Regions from separate parts of the Homo sapiens genome. Here region 2 is linked to region 1. Evidence: fine-mapped expression QTL. A gene starts in region 1. The other region holds a variant in brackets. All regions are shown on one strand. Distances are from middle to middle. Region 1 holds the start of LYRM2 (LYR motif containing 2). Region 2 overlaps MDN1 (midasin AAA ATPase 1).

What was found. PIP is the estimated chance that this variant, and not a neighbour inherited with it, causes the effect.
Region 2: its variant is fine-mapped to the expression of LYRM2 in whole blood (TOPMed, PIP above 0.99).

The regions. Positions count from the first base shown.
Region 1 is chr6:89,634,770-89,642,769 of GRCh38, reverse strand. LYRM2 (LYR motif containing 2) reads left to right here and starts at 4,023. Exons shown (of 3, transcript NM_020466.5): 1 at 4,023-4,098; 2 at 4,888-5,028; 3 at 5,417-8,000. The coding sequence starts at 4,054. The coding sequence ends at 5,497. It overlaps MDN1 (midasin AAA ATPase 1), which reads left to right. Exons shown (of 102, transcript NM_014611.3): 102 at 1-272. MDN1-AS1 (MDN1 antisense RNA 1) reads right to left here and starts at 4,238. Exons shown (of 4, transcript NR_111915.1): 1 at 4,134-4,238. RefSeq lists enhancers at 4,224-4,273, 4,494-4,723, 4,076-5,275.
Region 2 is chr6:89,719,484-89,732,938 of GRCh38, reverse strand. It overlaps MDN1 (midasin AAA ATPase 1), which reads left to right. Exons shown (of 102, transcript NM_014611.3): 34 at 164-382; 35 at 2,016-2,213; 36 at 3,800-4,008; 37 at 4,984-5,106; 38 at 7,543-7,740; 39 at 9,320-9,427; 40 at 9,796-9,984. Among named protein-coding and RNA genes, the nearest start is that of LYRM2, 87 kb to the right of the region's middle. RefSeq lists an enhancer at 11,276-11,777. The variant T/C (reference allele first, on the strand shown) is at 5,494.

The DNA.
Region 1 (8,000 bases):
GACTCTTCTTAATGGAAGATGACAGGATTGTAAAAGGTATGCTAGGGGACTGATCTTCTCTGCTGGATCAGTCAGTCAGCTGTTACTAGTTGATGCTGTGCTAACATGATCCCCTCCTACTTCCATGTTGCTCTTACTACAAAGGTTATCATTTGCATTTATGTCCATGGTAGGCTGAGCTATAATATGCTGGCTTTGCAGCAGAATGAAAAGGATGAGTTGGTGTAGCCTTATAAGGAGGCTTATAAAAATTAATTATCCTCCATAAATGATGATGTTGCATCCCACTCACATTTCATTGGCTAAAGCCCTCTATGGGGCAGGGAGTTTAATCTTCCAGTAGGGTTGAGTCTGGGAGGGAAAGACACCAATATTATGACAATGCTGCAGTCTATTACATCTGCCTTTGGAAGCTCCATCTTTCTTAGACCTCAAACTGGTGTGCCCAGAGTGATTCCCTTGGCCCTGGGTTAGCTCATGAGATCATGGACAGTAGGAATTCCAGGAAGCAGGAACCCAAGAGTGCCATTTTCAACTTGTGCTGCCAACAGGGGCTTGCAGGAGTAGTGATCAATTAATCTGCCATGTTGATAGTTGACATTTGTGCTATCCTGCCCACCCCCCCCTCCCCCAACCCCCCAGGCCTTGGCCAAATAGGTAAGTAAGTAAGTTCTGATATTTAAGGAATGGACAGCAGAACACAAAAGTCCTCCATGCTGTCTTAAAAATCTCACTTTGGGGCTGGGTGCAGTGGCTCACGCCTATAATCCCAGCACTTTGGGAGGCCAAGGTGGGTGGATCACTTAAGGTTAGGAGTTAGTTTGAGACCAGGCTGGCCCATATGGTGAAACCCCATCTCTACTAAAAATACAGAAAATTAGCTGGGTGTGGTGACGCGCACCTGTAATCCCAAGCTACTTGGGAGGCTGAGGCAGGAGAACTGCTTGAACCAGGAGGTGGAGGTTGCAGTGAACTGAGATTGTGCCACTGCACTCCAGCCTGGGCAACAGAGCAAGACTCTATCTCAACAACAACAATAAAATCTCACTTTGGATAACTTCTTCACCACTCCCGTGGCCTCCACCATCACTGAAGCAAAAGGACTGTAAAATTCTCCATCCAGGGGTCCAGGAAATCTACTCTTTGGTATTCTTAATTATATTCAGACATCTGCTGGATGTCACTGTGTTCTAATTCCCCTATTCCAAACCCATTCCTTCAACATTCCCCATCTGGGATGACCACTCCAACAGCCACCCTGTTTACAAACTTGGGACTTAACCTATACATCTGCTTTACTTCCTTCTCCATCTCTATCCATACCCCAATCAAATTAATTAATCATCTTGTCCAGTCAGGCTTCTGGATATCCTGTCCCATCCCTCCCCCTCCCCCTACTGCACTGTGACTGGGACTCTTTTAATCTCTAGCAGGGACTACTTCAATGGTATCCTGGCCAGGCCAGTAACTTCTCTTTGCTTGCTTCACTTCATCCTATTCACAACATCCAAGATCTTTCTAAAAGTTCTGTAGCTGAAAATCCCTTCAAAGCTCTCCCTTGTGAAGAGGGTAATATTCAAGCTTCTTCATGTGACCTGTGAGGCTCTTGCTTGACTCTCCTGTCCCTCCTCTCCCAGCATTCCTGCCAGTGTTTCCATGTGTTGTCTGGAATCCTCTTAGTGATTCTGCGTTTCTGACAAATACCTAGCTCAGACAAGCCCTCCAGGAAGAATAATTTCCCACAGTATGAACTGCAGCATTCTTTGTTAGCACTATATTGAACTTAGAGGTTTTCCTGCCCAAAGCATGAGTCTTTGAGCAAGGAGCATATGTGACTCACGACAGCATTACCAGTGTCTAGCAAGAGTGAGCCCTTTTTTTTTTTTTTTTTTTTTTTTAAATAGAGCTTTGCTCTTGTTGCCCAGGCTGGAGTGCAATGGCGCAATCTCGGCTCACTGCAACCTCCGTCTCCCAGGTTCAAGCGATTCTCCTGCCTGAGCCTCCCAAGTAGCTGGGACCACAGGCGTGCGCCACCAGGCCCGGCTAATTTTTTGTATTTTAGTAGAGACGAGGTTTCACCATGTTGGCCAGGCTGGTCTCGAACTCCTGACCTCAGGTGATCCACCTCGGTATCCCAAAGTGTTGGGATTATAGGCATGAGCCACCGCACCTGGCCTGAGTGTTTCTTGATGGGAAGAAGAAATAATGTAAAAATGTCTTTCTCACATATTAATGTATAGATTCAACACTACTTCAAAATTCCAACCAAGATCACAAGATGATTTGGAGGGAAATGATACAAAACATTTCTAAAGATTATAGAGAACAGTACTAATGGATTTTTTACAAGAAACTAGAGTCCTGCCAGATAATAAAAACATATAAAACAAAAAGTAAAAACTTAACCCTAAATGAAACAATTCTGGACAGATTACTCAGACCCTAAAAGAATTTATCATACAGTCAAAAAGGCATCCATCATAAAGCCCCGAAAAAGGAATGAGTTATGTAATCAATGGTATTGATACAGCTTAACATCTAGAAAAGAACTTAGATCCACGTGATGCTGTAAACCAAAGTAAATTCTAGATGGAGTAAATATTTTAAAAATTAAAGTTTTTAAAAAACGAATTACAAAGGCCTGAATGGGAAATGAAAAGCCTCAAAAGGCACAAAAATACATGATTGTATAAAGTTTCTGTATGTATAAAGAAATGACAAAAAATATAGAGCCCATATAAATGTCCTCATCATAAACGGACCCAAGTCATGAACAATTCACAAAAACAGTATAACTAAAAATGGCGAGGGGTATTTAACTTCACTCCTTTTAAAAAGTTAGCAATTAACTATTACAGCTAATGTATTAGACAAAATTTGGCATATATTATTGATAATATGATCATGCAGTTAGCATCATTCATACAATGCCTGGTAAAGTTCAAAAGAGCTAATGATTAGAGTTCTTACATGTGCCAGGACCTGTTCTCAGTACATTAGAGATACACAACTGAGGTAGATGCTATATTTCACTTTACAGGGGAGGTAATAGGCCAGGAGAGGGGAAATAGCCAGAACACAGCTAGGAATAGGGAGCCCCAGGATGCTAACAGGCGAGGCAAGCAAGTCCCCAGTAAACTAGTAATTGAACATTTTTCGTTCTATTTTAATTCGATACAACACCACTTGGAAAATTAATATGGCAAAGATTCGCTAACTCCACTTCTAGTGATTTAACCCAAAGGCATGTGTATTGTGGGAAAGATAAAACAACTATAAGGAAATAAAAGCAAAAGCCTGAGGCTTAGGGATGTTAGGCTCCTCGTTATTAGTGATGAAAAGTGCTTAAGACTGAAGTGGGTGAGCCATTCAAAGCTTTGTTTCAAATGATCATGAAGGCCACCGCTCCCGGAAAACCTTTGCGCTACAAAAGAACAGGACAAAAACGAGAAAGAGAAAAAACCAACACAAACTGTAAAAGAAATTAACACTTTCAATTTTAGTATTTTCAACTATACACATTTTTAAAGGCTCGAAAGAACATTTAAATACGTTTTCACCTCTTTCCCCCAAAAAAACCTTAACTTTTTTTTCGAGACAGGGTCTCGCTCTGTCGCCCAGGATGGAGTGCAGTGGTGCGATCTCGGATCACTGCAACCTTCACTTCTCGGGTTCAAGCGATTCTCCTGCCTCAGCATCCCGAGGAGCTGGGATTACAGGCACCTTACAGGCCTCCCAGAGTGCTTGGGACTGCAGGTGAGAGCCACCGCGCCCGGCCTCCTTCACTTTCATTTGAACTCTCTTTACCAGGAACTGTGTTAAGTGCCCTACCTTTCTTCTTTATCAAAACGACCCTATGGTGCACTGTTATCCTATTTTACCGACGAGAAAACTTCGGCCAGCGCAGCAGCTAGGGCTCAGTCCCGAAGCCTCGCGCTCTCAGTCCGAGAGCAACCCGCGGGCCGTCTCCTAGGAAACCGGGCTCGCCACACCCCTTGGTCGAACCCCACTTCCGCTCCTGCGCGCTGAGGCTCCGGCGGACCTCTGGTGGACATGGCTGCTTCCCGCTTACCCCCAGCGACGCTAACGTTAAAGCAGGTACCGGCGGTTCTCTGCCTTCCAAAGCAGCTTACCTGGGTCTGAGCTGGATTCTCCATCTGTCCCTATCCCCAACGGGGCGGGTTCCGGGGTCCTGATGCGGCGTGCGCGCCCTCTGAGATTGGCCCGATGCCTGCGGGGCGGTGCTTCGCTCCGCGGGGCCTGACGGGAGGCACTGGCTGCTTCCTTGGTTTGGTGCGATCGCGTGAGACAGCGTCAGGCGCTTGATTTCCCTGAGTCCCGGTGCCTCAGCTGCCCAGTGCCCACGGTAAAAGTCTATTGCACTGAGCTGTGGCAAACAGCAAATGAGATTACCAAAGATTTGAACAACTGTTAATTTAGAAAAAGTGCTGTCGTTGTAATAACAACTTCTAGGAGACCGGCAGCCCTTTTCAGCCCGGTAGGCAGCTCCTGATTTTTTAATGGTTCTTAGGTTTGACAGAGCAGTAAGCAAAAAGATCAGATGAACCTCGTGATGCTTTCTTTAAAACATCTTTTTGAGACAGGGCCTCACTCTCGCCCAGGCTGAGTGCAGTAGCGCAATGAAGGCTTACCTCAGCTTAGACCTCCTGGGCTCAAGTGATCCTCCCATCTTGGCCTCCCAAAGTGCTGGGATTACAGGCCTGAGCCACTGCATCTGGCCAAAAAAAGAAAAAAAAAAGTTTTTCTTTGCCTTTTTCAAAATTGACCAACGAGAAGTACTCTGGTTACAGCTTGGTTTGCTGAAGTAGAACTTTCCAGGCTGGCGATTGTGCAGTAGTAATTGCTATTTACTCCTCCCTTTTACAGTTCGTAAGAAGGCAACAAGTTCTTCTCCTCTACAGAAGGATTTTGCAAACAATTCGGCAAGTTCCAAATGATTCTGATCGCAAATACCTGAAAGATTGGGCAAGAGAAGAATTCAGAAGAAACAAAAGTGCCACCGAAGAGGTGAGAACAAAATCATGGTGAGGACAGATCCTAACCCTTTTTATTGATCAGTGAATTTTTTTTTTTAAGTTTAGCAGACATCTTGGAATATAGTGCCACTGAGCTGGTATATCTTGATCATTGCTTGTAATGTTACCGATTTTAAATTATTATTTTAAAATTTAGTATTTTAAAATATGTAGATAAAAGAGTATCTACACTCTTCAGCATCATCACTTGACTTTTATGTTGTACATTTTATATGTATGTATGTGGAACTCTTTTAGCTTTTCTAAAAGGCAGCAGTTCCAATAGGTAGTATTGGTTCTTGATTTTAACAGATAAAATGGTATAGCTATACCTTGTTTAACCAGGTAAAACTATAACCAGATTTCACTTTATTCTACAGGATACAATCCGGATGATGATTACTCAAGGCAATATGCAGCTCAAGGAGTTAGAAAAAACACTTGCTTTAGCAAAATCTTAACTATAGCATTATTCTGAAGGATTTTCAAAGTCTCCATGTGTTTTGTTGCATTTAGGATTAACAATGGACAACACAAAGCCCAGTCTTACTATTTATATGTACAGTATTTGGTGATAGAGAGCAAAGGAAAAACACATCAGAACAGTTGCCTTAACACTGAAAAACATACCCTGCATTTTGAAAATGTTTATGGATGTCTCAGCAGTTCTTAAAAGAAGAAAAAAACCACTAACAAATGGCCAGTAGATGCTGGACACAATCATTAGGGAAGTGTAAATCAAAACTACTATGAGGTCGGGTGTAGTGGCTCATGCTTGTAATCCCAGTACTTTAGGAGGCTGTGGTAGGTGGATCACTTGAGGTCAGGAGTTCAAGACCAGCCTGGCCAGCATGGTGAAACCTCATCTCTACTAAAAATACAAAAATTAGCTTGGTGTGGTGGTGCATTGCCTGTAGTCCCAGCTACTTGGGAGGCTGAGGCAGGAGAATCACTTGAACCCAGGAAGTGGAGGTTGCAGTGAGCTGAGGTCGTGCCACTGCACTTCAGCCTGGGTGACAGAGTGAGACAGTCTCTAAAAAAAAAAAAAAAAAACAACCCTGAGATTCACATTCACTAGAATGGCTGTAATTAAAAAGAGAAATAATAATAAGTCTTGGTGAAGATGTACAGAAATTACAGAACCCTCATACATTGCTGGTGGGAATGTAAAATGGTGTAGCCACTTCAGAAAACAGACGGTCAGTTCCTCAAAAGATGAAACAGCTGCTGTATGAGTTAGCACTTCTACCCCATGCCCATAGCCATTATTTGGCACTAAAAAGAAACGAAGGACTTATATATACTAAACATGGATAAACCTTGAAAACGTTAAGTGAAAGAAGCCGGTCACAAAAGATCACATGATGATTCCATTCATACGAAATGTCCAGAATAGGCAGAAAGATTAGTGGTTGCCTAGGCTGGCTGTAGATGGAATGGAGTAACTGCTAATGGGTGTAGGGTTCCTTTTCAGGGTGATGAAAATATCCTACAGTTAGCTTGTGGTGTAGGCTGCACAACTCTTGAATATATTCAAATCCACTGAACTGTACATTTTAAATGTAAGGTATGAATTGTATCTCAATAAAGCTGTTATTAAAAAACTCTTGAGGTGTAGGACTGAAAGTATACTGACACCAGGAGATACCCTGGAACTTTCTCGAAAAATCCTGCATTATCCCTGAGGGTTGTTCAGGTACGTTCTTCAGATGTGTCATAGTTTGATAGAGAACTCATCAAAAAGATCACCACTGGGAATCTAGATCTTTGTTGAAAAGGGAAGAGAAAGAGAAGCTTAATGAGCACATTGAAGCACTTACCAGAAAGAAGAGGGAAGACTTCTGGATGAAACCTCTGTGAGTACCTTAACATTCACATGGAAGTAGTAAAAATAAGATTCTGGGTGCAGTTCTCCAATGACAGGAAAAAAAACAAAGAGAATTTGAAGAATACGTCAGAGACAAATACATTACAACCAAAATTGACTTCAAGGCACTTTTGAAGGAGATCAAATTTATAACAAAATAATTTAGTGAAAGTGAAAGCTTGTGGAAGATGTTGGAATCATCCATCCTGAAAATTGAAGTCTTCTGTTTATCAACAGAACAGCTAAGAAGCTAATCTAAGAATGACCAGCACCTGAAAGATGTAGACAACATTTTGCAGAATGATAAATGGTATCCAGTACTGGACTGTGTCTGAGAGGCATCAACTGAATGTGGATGTTAATGACCTGGACTGTCAGGGTCCACCTCTACCTCCCAGAGCCTCAGAGCCCACAAGACAAAATAATTCTGAATACTGTTCCATGGGGGTAATCTACTAATTCAAAATGCCTGCCTGTGCCAATTTTCAGGTTTTTATGTAGATAAGTATTAGTTAACCTGTTGCAAAATGATCTGACAAACAGAAGCATTTGTGACGTTTCTGAACAGAGAACACTTTGGAAATATTTTTTGTGTGACATGATTGATAGATACATGCTATCTCTAGTAAATCTAAAATCTTGAAACTCAAAATCATCCTTTTATGGGTGTAGAAGTCAGTGATTTAATGATGCTCTTCCTAACAGTGGTGTGCATGGAAAGGTTTTCATTAAAGAGCGTATGTGGTTTGCATTTGCAAGATTCAACTAGCACAGACTCCAAGAAAACCTAAGTTTTTTTGTTTTTTAAAGCAGGTAAGGCCGGGCACTGTGGCTTACACAAGTAATCCACACACTTTGGGAGGCTGAGGTGGGTGGATCACTTTAGGTCAGGATTTCGAGACTAGCTAGGCCACTAGCTAGCCTAACCTGGTGGCACGTGCCTGTAATTCCAGCTACTCAGGAGGGCTGCCTCATATTGAACCCGGGAGGCAGAGGCTGCAGTGAGCCGAGAACACACTACTGCACTACAGCCTGGGCGAAAGAGTGAGACTCTTGTCTCAAAAAAAATAAAAAAGTGCCATCAAGTTAGAAGTTTT
Region 2 (13,455 bases), 87 kb before region 1:
CAGGCTGCTTTTGTTAGAAACAGCATTTATGTACATTCATTCACAGAACTTTGCTTAGAAGGAGCAGAGACCCCTTTTAGGCCATTTGTGTGCCCCTGGTTATGAACTTTTGTTCTGGGATCTCCCGTTAACAGCAAATGCTTTTTTTGTTTCTTGTGTTTAGGGTCTGACATACCTGAAGTGATGCTGGATTTCATTGACTGGCTGACCCACCAAGAGTTTGGCAGAAAGTGTGTGGTCAGTATCAGAGATATCCTGTCCTGGGTTAACTTCATGAACAAAATGGGGGAGGAAGCTGCTTTGAAAAGGCCAGAGATCATCTCCACTGTGACATCTTTTGTCCATGCTGCATGCCTGGTGTACATAGATGGAATAGGTTCAGGTATGTTGTCTGGTAGCTGGTGGGGACAAGGGGCTCGTATAGAGGGGCATAGGAAAAGGAGCAAGCCCAGGCCTCTGACCCAGCTATTTTACTGAATCACTTCTCAGAACATTTCTAAAACTCAGAATGGCTTTCCTTTTGTTTGTACTCTTTGAAAGGTGATTGGCACACAGGATACACTGCAACTTCTCAAAGCTGGTAGACCAGGTACTTAACAAACATGAAGTGGTGATTATGAGTAGAGTAAAGACTGCTGAAATGTCTTTGCTTCTGAAGCACTGGCTTTTTTTTTTTTTTTTAAATTAAGTTCTGGGATACATGTGTTAGGAATAATGCTTAAAATTGTAAAGAAATTGAACACTTAAACAAAGGGTTTTTAGCAAAGCAATTTTATTTTTGTGCAGAGGGGTGTTTTTTTGGCCAGTTGCCATGAGAGTACACTTGAACAAAGGGCACGAGAGCCTTTATTTTTGATGCAAGTTTTGTTTTTGTATTTTTCTTTTATTGGCCGGGGTTGGGTTGTATAATTTAAACTCATTTTGGTTGGCTAGACATTTGAATTTTTTTAGATAAGGTGGACATGTTAAAGAAAGTGGAGAGGAAGGGGGAGGGGTGTTTGTAATGAGTTAGAAAGTTAGTTTTTTTTTTTTAAATAAGGAAAGGAATGTGAGCTGGTATTGATAACGCCTGGTATTGTGGCATGCCTGGGCATTTAACAAAGGAAAAAAGGAGAAAAAGGAAAAGGTGGGGGGGGGGGGCGGTACTATGAATTAAAGAATAAAAGATTGATCAGATTATTTGAAGAGAAACCGAATATGCGGGTTTGTTACATAAGTATACATGTGCCATGGTGGTTTGCCGCACCCATCAACCCGTCATCTAGGTTTTAAGCTCCTCATGCATTAGGTATTTGTCCTAATGCTCTCCCTCCCCTTGCCCCCCATCCCCTGACAGGCCCCAGTATGTGATGTTCCCCTCCCTGTGTCCATGTGTTCTCATTGTTCAACTCCCACTTATGAGTGAGAACATGTGGTGTTTGGTTTTCTGTTCCTGTGTTAGTTTGCTGAGGATGATGGTTTCCAGCCTCATCCATGACCCTGCAAAGAACATGCACTTATTTTTTATGGCTGCGTAGTATTCCATGCTGTATATGTGCCACATTTTCTTTATCCAGTCTATCATTGATGGACATTCGGGTTGGTTCCAAGTCTTTGCTATTGTGAATAGAAGCACTGGCCAATGTTTAACATGAGTAGTAATTTTTTGATAATGGGCCTGAATATTTTAAGTTTATTTTAATGTCATAAAAATCACTGTGGTTTTTCAGCCATGAAGATTTGAAATATAAATAAAAATGGTTACTAGTGCCATATTAGGTACTGTATGTAGGCTGATTTATCACTGAGTGACTAGAGTGCTTTACTGAATGATCTGCTGCTTAATTGATAATCCATAGATTGTGGGGGATGCGTGTTGGACTTCTTTCTTAGGACTGCTTACACTAGAAATCACATTTAGGCTGCAGTTTTGCTGAGGCCTCTTTTTTCCGGGAACCTGTGCTAGAGCTCCTGCTTAATGGTGGTGAAGCTTGGTGTTGTACTGTTGCTTCATGGACTGATCCTCTGTCTTTTAGGGGTAACTTCCTCTGGGTTTGGTACAGCCCTTTTGGCACGAAAAGAATGTCTGAAATTTCTAATCAAGAGGCTTGCCAAGATAGTACGACTTACAGAATATCAGAAAAATGAGTTGAAGATTTATGACAGAATGAAGGCCAAAGAATTCACTGGAATAGATAACCTTTGGGGAATTCATCCATTTTTTATACCAAGGGGTAAGAATGATTTTTAAAAAATGAATTTTCCTTTTCTATAGATCATAGATACTTGGCTTTTATTGTGACTTAGTTTTAATGTGTAATACTCATGATTATATTTGCACTAACTGAGTTAGATTCTGACTTGAGAATAACCATAATTGTGTGAATGGTTGAAAATACCTGACTGGCATGTAAAAATAGAGGGAAATAGAGACTTCAATCTATAAATAGATTGTCTTATACAGTGCTTATTTTTTTATTAGTTGGTTCCCACATTAGGAACTTTCCTATAGTAAAGCTCTAAACTCTACTAATGTTGACAATAAACTTTTAAGTGGCTTGCAAAGACCTATTTAGCCTATAATGTATCTTAACTATACAACCTCATCATCTTTTACAGAAACAGGTTTTGTGAACCCTTGAAGGCTGGTAATGTGTCATTCCTGATCCGGTCCCTGGCATCTGACATTTAGGCCTCACAGTCATAGGCACTCAGAAAATTTCTGATGGATGAGTGAATGATTAAATGGGAAATGCAGTAGTCTAGGAGATAGTGGGTTTGTGTTCTAATTCTTTCTCTCTTTCTATCTAACTAGATTGTCTCTACCAAGTATTTAAATGAGGCAGTTAGATTAGCTACTTCTAAGGTGCTTCTACTTTTTCAGGATGTTGTTTCTGTAGCAGAGTCATCTGTTTCTTGTCCCTCCGCCCTCTCTATGTTAATGATTGATGAATGCCTGAAGTATATGGAGTTGCAGTGGCAATTACTGGGGTTTCAGTGGTGAACATAACCAGTCCAGGTTCCATTGCCCTTGCCCCTGTCCTCAGAGCTCCATCTCTCCTTAGCAGTATTCTCTCTTCATCCCTGATGGGCTGTATAATCTAACCATCAAATCCCTTCTCTAAGCCACCATCATAGGACTCAGTGCTCCTGTGTAGGAGATACATGCTAGTGGCCTAGAACTGGGGTGGTCCTTGCTTCTGCTACCAAGGGTGAGGTAATAAATGTTTTCCTAGCCTCACTCCCTTCAAACTGGTGTACAAAAAAAAAAAAAAAAAAAAACGAAAACAAAACAAAAACTTCTTCCAAGAGACAGTGGCACAAATGTTAAATATTACAAGACTGTTATTAGTCCTGCATATCAGTTAACTTACAGGTTAAGGACACAGTGTGAATTGTTTTGGTGGCCAAAAACATTGGATGAAGTTGATTATGTGGAACCATGTGGCCCATATGCCTAGCTTACACTTGGTTTTTAGGAAAGTAACTATGAAGGTAAATTGTACAAGTACATACAGTGATTCAGGGTGTAGGTTGTGAAAGGACAGGTGTGTGTTTGCATGTACATGTATGTGTATAGGAGATGGAGAGATCTGTGTAGTAGGCACTGTTGAAGAAAACGTGTTATTGGATATTCCTTTAAAGCATTTTATGGATCTAAAAGTGGGGAAATATTGAAATAGGGATTGAACATTTTCACTGCAAATGGTATTTCACTAACTGATAACCCATGTGGTAGATTTTTAAAATCTTGAGTTGATGCATACATGTGATTTGATGATGTCCCGCTTATACATGACTTTACTTTTCTCCACTTAAGGACCTGTCCTACACAGGAATAATATTGCAGACTATGCACTCAGTGCAGGGACCACTGCTATGAATGCACAGAGGCTCTTAAGAGCTACCAAACTGAAGAAGCCCATTCTCCTGGAGGGTTCCCCTGGTGTTGGCAAGACAAGTTTGGTGGGAGCATTAGCAAAGGCTTCAGGAAATACCCTTGTTAGAATCAACTTATCAGAGCAAACGGTAAGCTCGGTCATCCTACAGCTGATGGAGATAGCTATAGATAGTAATGTCTGTGTCAATTTATATTTGCCTAATCAGAAATGATTACATTATCAGTATCCTCAAATTTTTCTTTTCTTTTCTTTTCTTTGTTTTTTTGAGACAGAGTCTCGTTCTGTTGCCCAGGCTGGAGTGCAGTGGGGTGCAATTCTCCTGCCTCAGTCTCCCTAATCACTGGGATTACAGGTGCCCGCCACCACACCTAGCTAATTTTTGTATTATTATTAGAGACAGGGTTTCACCATGTTGGCCAGGCTGGTCTCAAACTCCTTATGTCAAGTGATCCACCTGCCTTGGCCTCCCAAAGTGTTGGGATTACAGGCGTAAGCCATGGCGCCTGGCCTGTATCCTCAGATATTTCATATCATAATAAAGCCCACAGCAACATGACCTTCCAAACTAAATCTTCTTTGGATTTGTTAATTGCTGACACCTATAATATTAATTCTCTCTGGATGCTTTATTCTAATTCTCTTTCGAGAGAGAATTATCCACTTTGGTATTTATTGTAATATAACCCCAGTTAATTTTTTGCTTAAATTTTTTTTTAAAAAGTGGTAGAAATAAAATGACTTTTAACAATCTAAGGAAAATATGGTACAGATGACAAATTGAATGAGAATCCTTTGGAATAGGATTTTGTTTTCTTTTTTTTTTAAGCCTGTCAATTAAATTCCAAGTACAGCCAATGTTGAGAACTGTTAATCTAGAGCACCAGCTCAAATTGATTGATATATGGAACATGTTGGGAAAGTTCTTGGGGGCATGTTTGGGCTCCTGGTAAAGAGAGCTGGGATTGGTTAGTTCTATCTTGGGTGTAGGAAGGAAGAGTAGTGGTGCCAGCCCCAAGTATTTATCATTTCAGATTTAGGGTGTTAGAATCCAGTTGATTTTTAAAGTAATAATGGCTTCTTTCCATTTCTTCCCCTTTCAAAGGACATCACAGACCTGTTTGGAGCAGATCTACCTGTTGAAGGTGGCAAGGGAGGAGAGTTTGCCTGGCGTGATGGCCCCTTACTGGCAGCTTTGAAGGCAGGCCATTGGGTGGTGTTGGATGAGGTGAGGGGCCTGTTTGTCATGCCCAAGACGGTGATCATGTGTGTGAGGAGCAGTCATCCTTTCACAGCTCCATTTCACAATCCATTTCTCAGTGGAAGATCCCGCTGATGACTTTTCTCTAATGAAAAGATCCTCTGTAGTTTTCTTTAAGAATGAGGAAGGTCACTTGGCAGAATACACAAAAAGAGGCCCTTGTACATAAAACCTACAAACTCTCCCACTGTTTAAAGTTATCCTTCAGAGGAAAACTGCATCGTCACTAGTTTAGTCTCTGACAGGCTTGCCGTTTCTGCATTTATTTTAGAGGCATTTTATAAATAGCGTCAACCGCTTCATGTTTTATTAGTGCACCGGAGAGACTAAGGAAAGACATACAAAATGACCTAC[T/C]GAAATGAGGAAACGATCCGTTATGTGTGCATATGGGGTAAATTATTCATCAGAAGAAAGAGCAGAGTATGAGACATGATAAATACTGAATCTCTGACAACTAGAGATATGGAGCTGGGTCAGTTTGGGGTGTACAATATTCAGGAAAAGGCTAGAAATATTTGTGGAGCTGAAATGATTAGAGTGATGTACGTGTCACAGGTGAGACTTTGGACACAGGCTGCAACAGGTCCCCCAGGTTCAGACTCCTGGGTCTGATCATCAGAGAGGGTGCTGTGGGACTCCTGTCTGCTGAGCTGCTTTCTGCCTTTTATTCTTGGGATAACAAGGAGAGGGAATTTTTTTCCATTTTTCAGATTTTTTTTTGAACAAGATGTCTGATAGAATATATATTAGCCAGGAAAAGAGAAAGCCTAGTTTTAAAGCTGAAGGCTACTGACCATACTTAGTATTTAGTGGAATTGCATATTTAGTGGAATTGCATTCAGGGACGACAAGACATTCTAGATTTATAAACACATTTAAGAGCGGCCTTCTGTTTGGGAATATACAGAAGTGTTTGTGCTTTGTGGTGCTTGTGTAAACATGACACTTGAAATTCTAATGTAGTGTGCTCTGATTTTTGCCTGTTTGCATTTTAATAACTTGTATTTTCCCGATCTCCTTTTTCTATGTTACCAACAAACCACACATGCTTCACATCCCTGAGCTCTGAACTACTCATCTGAAGACCTACATTCAGCTCTTTTCATCCTGGCACAAGAGCCCCTTGTAATTGTTCTTATTTACAAAATTGGTGGAAATCAGCTGTATTAACTCACTTTATATCCTGACTTTGAAACCCGTTGGAGATTTTGTTCAGTGTTTGAGATGGGAAAGTATTTAAAGAGTTAACAAACCTTATCTATTCTCTACAATTAGTGTTACATGTCTTTTTCTTTTTCTTTTCTTTTTTTTTTTTTTCTATTTTTCTTTTTTTTTTTAGGCAGAGTCTCAGTCTGCCGCCCAGGCTGGAGTGCAGTGGTGGGTTCTCGGCTCATTGTAACCTCCTCCTCCCAGGTTCAACTGAATCGTGAATCTCCTGCCTCAGCCACCTGAGTAGCTGGGATTACAGTCATGCACCACAATGTCTAAGTTTTGTATTTTTAGTAGAGACAAGGTTTCGCTATGTTGGCCCGCCTGGTCTTGAACTCCTGGCCTCAAGTGATCCACCTGCCTCGGCCTTCCAAAGTGTTGGGATTACAGGCATGAGCCACCACTCCTGGCTAATTTGTGTTACACATCTTAAAAACTCAGATTGTGAAAATGAAATATCTGTGTATTGGCAAGTTTTTCTGCAAGTTATTACTTACAGAGCAGGTTAATATAGGTTATATGTAATGGATACAGTTTAACTTTTGAGAAGATTCTTAACTTTAAAATTTAATTTGAGCATTTATTCAGTTTAAAGATTATTAATATATGTGTGTATATATACGTGTGTGTGTGTGTGTGTGTGTGTGTGTGTGTGTGTGTATAAAATACCAGACAAAATCTCTAACATACATGGGAAATAAAGAATAATAGAATTGGACCAGGTACAGTGGCTTATGCCTGTAATTCTAACATTGGGAAGCTAAGGTTGGAGAATTACTTGAGCCCGGGAGTTTGAGACCATCCTGGACAACATAACAAGACCTTGGCTCTACCAAAAAAAAAAAAAAAAGAATTAGCTGGATGTGGTGGTGCACACCTGTGGTCACAGCTATGCAGCAGGCTGAGATGGGAGGATCTCTTGAGCCCTGGAGGTAGAGGTTGCAGTGAGCTGTGATTGTGCCACTGCACTGCAGCCTGAGTGACAGAGTGAAACCCTGTCTCAAAAACAAAAGCATAATAGAATGAAGACAAACCAACCATAACTCAGCCAAAAATACAGAAGGTTATCAATATTGTTTGAAATTCCCTTTCTGAAGATAACTCTAGCTTTATTTGCTGCATATTATTCCCCTGCTTTTTGTTGCAGTTGTATAATATATTTGAGACAAATTATGTACTTTCTTCTTTAAATAGCTTAACCTGGCTTCTCAGTCTGTATTGGAAGGACTCAATGCTTGTTTTGACCACCGAGGAGAAATCTATGTGCCTGAGTTAGGAATGAGCTTTCAAGTGCAGCATGAAAAGACGAAGATTTTTGGGTGTCAGAATCCCTTTAGACAAGGAGGTGGGAGGAAAGGCTTGCCCAGGTCTTTCCTTAACAGATTCACTCAGGTAAGATTTGCTGTTGCCATAGAGACCAAAGATAGACTCGGAGGGGATAAGACTACTATTATGAAGCCTTTAAGGATATTCACTATGAGAATTAGAGAGGATCAGCTTAATGATCCTCTTTCTTGTCCTTATATGATCAATATTAATGTGACTGATTCCCATCATTGCTTCTGTCCTTCATCTTTTGCCCTGGAAGACTAGATGTGTTATCAGCTGGAAGAAAGTAAGGTCCCCAGCCTTTTCAGGATTCTGTGACTGCACTCTGGGATGAAGTCCAATCTTGGACCTTTTCAATTGTCCCTCTGATCTGTTGAAATATATAAGAAAAATTTTTATTGAAAATAATGCATTTTAACTAAAGAAAAGAAAGAACAGAAAACTACTATGAAGAATAAAAATCCACTATTCCCCAGTCAGTCATTATTAACATTTTGGTATCTTATGCCTTTATTCTTACTTGCAGAGGGGTACCTGTGTATGTGTATGCTTACTTGTTTTAACATCAGTTTTTCAGAGTTTGGCCAATCCAGAGGTTTGGAAATGTCTCTAGATTTCTTTAGTGTCACTGTCTCTTATGATTAAGAATTGGCTGAGTATCTTTTAAGAATGTTTTATTGGCTGGGCATGGTGGATCATGCCTGTAATCCCAGCACTTTGGGAGGCCAAGGCAGGTGAATCACCTGAGGTCAGGAGTTCGAGACCAGTCTGGCCAATATGGCGAAACCCCGTCTCTATTAAAAATACAAAAATTAGCTGGGTGTGGTGGCAGGTGCCTGTAATCCCAGCTACTGAGGAGGCTGAGGCAGCAGAATCTCTTGAACCCGGGAGGCGGAGGTTGCAGTGAGCTGAGATCGCGCCATTGTACTCCAGCCTTGGCAACAGAATGAGACTCCATCTTAAAAAAAGAAGAATGTTTTATTGAGAAAACTTTCAAACATATGGAAAAATTGGATGACTTTTATAGTGAATACTCGTATCTACCACCCAGATTTAAAAGCATTTTACATTATACATAGGAAATTTTTAATAACATGTATCTTTTTTTTTTCTTTTTTTGAGATGGAATCTTGCTCTGTCGCCCAGGCTGGAGTGCAGTGGCGTGATCTTGGCTCACTGCAATCTCCTCCTCCTGGGAGCAAGCAATTCTCCTGCCTCAGCCTCCTGAGTAGCTGAGACTACAGGCGCATGCCACTATGCCCAGCTAATTTTTGTATTTTTAGTGAAGACAGGGTTTCGTCATGCTGGTCAGGATGGTCTTGATCTCTTGACCTCATGATCCACCTGCCTTGGCCTCCCAAAGTGCTGGGATTACAGGTGTGAGCCACCGCACTGGGCCTCTTTTTTCTTTAATTCACTAGAATAGACCTTAAAAACAAAACCTCTACTCAGCTGTATTTAGAAGATTTTATGATTCTTTATTCTCAAAACACAAAAAAAGAAATTTCTATAACTGAAAATTATATTTCTCATGTATTGTTACTTGGTATTAAAGATTTTGCATAATAAGACATGGTAGTCATTTCTAGTGTTTGGTAAAGAGAAACAAAGGCATTTCTTCATATTATTTTTGGATTTCTAGGTCTTCGTTGATCCCCTTACAGTAATTGACATGGAGTTCATTGCCAGTACTTTGTTTCCAGCCATTGAGAAAAATATTGTTAAGAAAATGGTTGCTTTCAATAACCAAGTAAGTACCTACACGTATTGGTTTCTTTTTTTTTCTGGCTGTATTTGAACCAGTATTTTTTCAACATAGAGTTCTACCAAATTATCAGGATCTCTAACTAAAAAAAATTACTTTGAATTCTACAGGTTTCTAGTGGAAGGGACACTATGTAGTGGAGGCTTCCAGTAATTCATTTCTGTATTGTGACTACCAGTGTTAATGCTTAGAGGATAAGCCAGGCATTTGGAAGTCTTGAGAAAGAGGCTCTGAATCAAGCCTGTTAATTTTTGTTTCAGATTACATATGCTTTTGTAGTACATTCCTAGTACTTAATGCAGTGCCTAGTAGTAAGCAGGGCATGTTTCCCAATCAGGATGTTTTCTTTCTAGATTGATCATGAAGTGACTGTTGAGAAGAAATGGGGGCAAAAAGGAGGACCCTGGGAATTCAACCTCCGGGACCTTTTCCGCTGGTGTCAGTTGATGCTGGTTGACCAGTCCCCTGGGTGTTATGATCCTGGTCAGCATGTGTTTTTGGTCTATGGTGAAAGAATGAGAACCGAAGAGGACAAAAAAAAGGTGAGTTTCACGCTTGGTATTTGTATTTCTTTCCATCTGAAAGTTGATTTCCTGTGGGTGAGAAAGGACATACACTAATTGCAAGCCTTTTTTTTTTTTTTTTTTTTTGAGACTGGGTTTCACTCTTGTTGCCCAGGCTGGAGTGCAATGGCATAATCTTGGCTTGCTGCAGCTTCACCTCCCAGGTTCAAGTGATTCTCCTGCCTTAGCCTCCCAAGTAGCTGGGATTACAGGCATAAGCCACCAGTTCCGGCTAATTTTTTGTATTTAGTAGAAACGGGGTTTCACCATATTGGTCAGGCAGATCTCTACTCCTGAATTCAGATGATCCACCTGTCTCAGCCTCCCAAAGTGCTGGGATTACAGGCGTGAGCCACCACGCCCGGCTAGCAAGCCTGTTAAAGCTGCTTCAAAATTTAAAAGTTAAAAGAACAGACTAAACGTTCTCCTACCTTGGGGTCTCACAATATAGAGTAGCTTGCTTTAGAGGACATAATTTGCTTATCTATCCAAATCCCCATGATCACATACCTTAAAGCAGTATTGCCCTCCAGTAGTAAAGAACTAAGTCTTCACCATCTTTACAGGCACCAAGGTGAGAAGCAGGAGGAGGCAGACAGGTGATACTCCGTAGAAGAGGAAGTTTTTCTGTTTTGTTTTGTTTTTAAATAAATGTCAAATTACAAAGCATTTTGTCTAGAAAGTATAATCGTATAAAGAGAGAATATTCTGTGTTTAAGTGAAAATAAAAATACCTGTTTGTAAAACTAGAATTCCCACTGTAAGGAATTGTAATAACGTGTGCATTTTAGTTTGTGGTATTTAAAATCCTGTCTCGCTGAATGCTCACAGTAGCTATAGGCAGGAGGTGCTGTCATGGCATCTTACAGGTGAAGATCCAAGGCTTAAAGTTATGGAGTGTCACAGGTAGCAGAGCCAGCTTTCCAGTTTAGGCCCTCTCCAGTTTGTCTGCTGTTTCCTTCTAGTAAACTTCACTGTTTGAAAATAAATGAATAGATACATAGATGCATGCACTAGAAGCAGTAACCTCCTTGTTGAAATGTGAACATGTGGCTGGCCCATAGCACATGTGACTTTCACAGCCCTTTCATTCTGCTACCCATTCTGTTTGTTCTTATTTTTTTTCTTTTTTTGGATTGCAAAAATTTATTAAAATTGGAGACATTGTTTTAATCTTCTTGTGCCATGAGACTCCATCAGGCGGTCTACAAAGACCATTGGGAGGCTGAGGATCACTTGAGCCCAGAAGTTTGAGGCTGTAGTAAGCTTCAAAGGCCGCTGCACTCCAGCTTGGGTGAGGCAAGACCCTTTCAAGCAGTAAGCTGCATGCTTGCTTGTTGTGGTCATTAAAAACCCTAGTTTAGGATAACAGGTCTGCCTGCATTTCTTCAAGCATGAATTCTGAGTTCTTTGCTTCTTTAAAACTTGCTCCACACAGGGTAGTCAAGCCAACTCTCCATACCTTTAAAAGGTATGACAGGAACTGTCTTCATGTCCTTACCCAAGCAAGCCATCCACGGATAAAAACGTTACCAGGAGCAGAACCGTTAAGCTGGTCCAGACAAGTTGGACTCCACCATTTCAACTTCAGCTTTCTGTCTAATGCCTGTGTGCCAATGGCTTGAGTTAGGCTTGCTCTTTAGGACCTGGGAAGAAACAATTCAGTAGCTATTCTCATCCCTCCTTTGGGACAGAACTGTCCATAAGGTGCTATCCAGAGCCACACTGCATCTGCACCCAGCACCATACCTCACAGGAGTCGACTCCTACCTCGAAAAGCTGTTCTTATTTTTTTTGAGGCAGGGTCTGACTTTGTTGCCTAGGCTGGAATGCAGTGGCACAATGCCGGCTTAATGTAGCCTTGACCTCCTGGGCTCAAGGGATCTTCCCACCCCAGCCCACTGATAAGCTGGGACTATAGGCACATGCCACCAAGGCATGGCTAATTTGTTTTTACTTTTAATAGAGATGTGGTCTTGCCGTGTTGTCCAGGCTGGTCTTGTACTCCTGGGCTCAAGCAATCTTCCTGCCTCAGTCTCCCAAAGTGCTGTGATTACAAATGGAGTGAGCCACTGTGCCCGGCCACCCAGAGCTTCTTTAGTGTGGTATTCAGAATCTAATTACACACTAACTCATTTATCATACGTAGGTGACTTTCAATCATTTGATTAGGAGAAAGTCTTAGTAGTTTTTAACAGCTTTATTGATATATAATTCACATAATCAGCTAGTATTTTAATTTCTTCATCCACTTATAGTATATTAATTATGACCAAAACACATGCCAGTTGTTGAATGATTGATTAGTCAGGTGCTGGGTCATTGTGGTATGTGGAAGTTTTCCATCACTCTTCCAATTCAAGGTTATTGTAATGGACCTTATAGGTGTTTTCTAGCGGGGGAGACAAGGTCAAGAAAAATAATGTTATAGAAGGATAAAGTCTGTAAAAGCTAGAAGAGTCCAGTTGAATGGAATTTTGATTTTATAAAGCTAAACCAAAGAGCTAGATTGGGAATTTTTTTTTTTTTTTTTTGAGATGGAGTCTTGCTCTGTCGCCCAGGCTGGAGTACAGTGGCGTGATCTTGGCTCACTGCAACCTGGGTTCAAGTGATTCTCCTGGCTCAGCCTCCCGAGTAGCAATATTTGTAATTTTAACCCTCTGGTAGAACATCAGGGGTTGGAGATTATATACTTTAGTGTGGAACATGAGGTCATGTATCACCTGGACTCATAGGTAGGTGACAGGAACACTTTCCTATGCTGCTTTTAGTCTCACAGTCCAATGTTTGACACTGATTATGATTTTATCTATATTATTTTTATTTTTTAACTTCATTGTAGTATTCAATTATGTAAGTATTGCTGCTTTTTAGAAATACTATTTTGTATACTTTATTTATTTTTTTTCTGGCTTTAATTTTCCCTACTTCTGTGGGCTAAATTAATGTTTTTTATATACCTCTATCCGCCCCCCACCATTACTCTTAGATTTTTTAGAGATCCAAAATAAAAGAGTCAACAGAACATTTTCTAATAGCATTACTGCTAATGAAAGGATAACAATGTAAATAATTGGTTAGAGGAATAAATTTGGTTTTCATATCTACATAAATGTTTGGAGGGATAACATGTTTTTTGGAGGCTGACTGGCTTAGATTTAAAATCGGTCACCAACCATGGGCAAATTCTATAACTCTTGTGAGTGCTGTTGTCTATATAAAATGGACATGGTAACTATTTTGCATGGGTATAAAGATCAGAAATAATCTACCAAAGTACTTAATACAGTGTTTGGTACATAGGAGGTGGTTAATGAATGGTCATTTTTCTTTATAATCTTCGTATTACTGTTCTATCCTCTTTTTAGGTAGTATCTTCAATGATGAAAGCAAACAACTCTTTTTTTGTCTCTAGATTTCAATACTACAGTGTCCATGGCTTCAATTTAA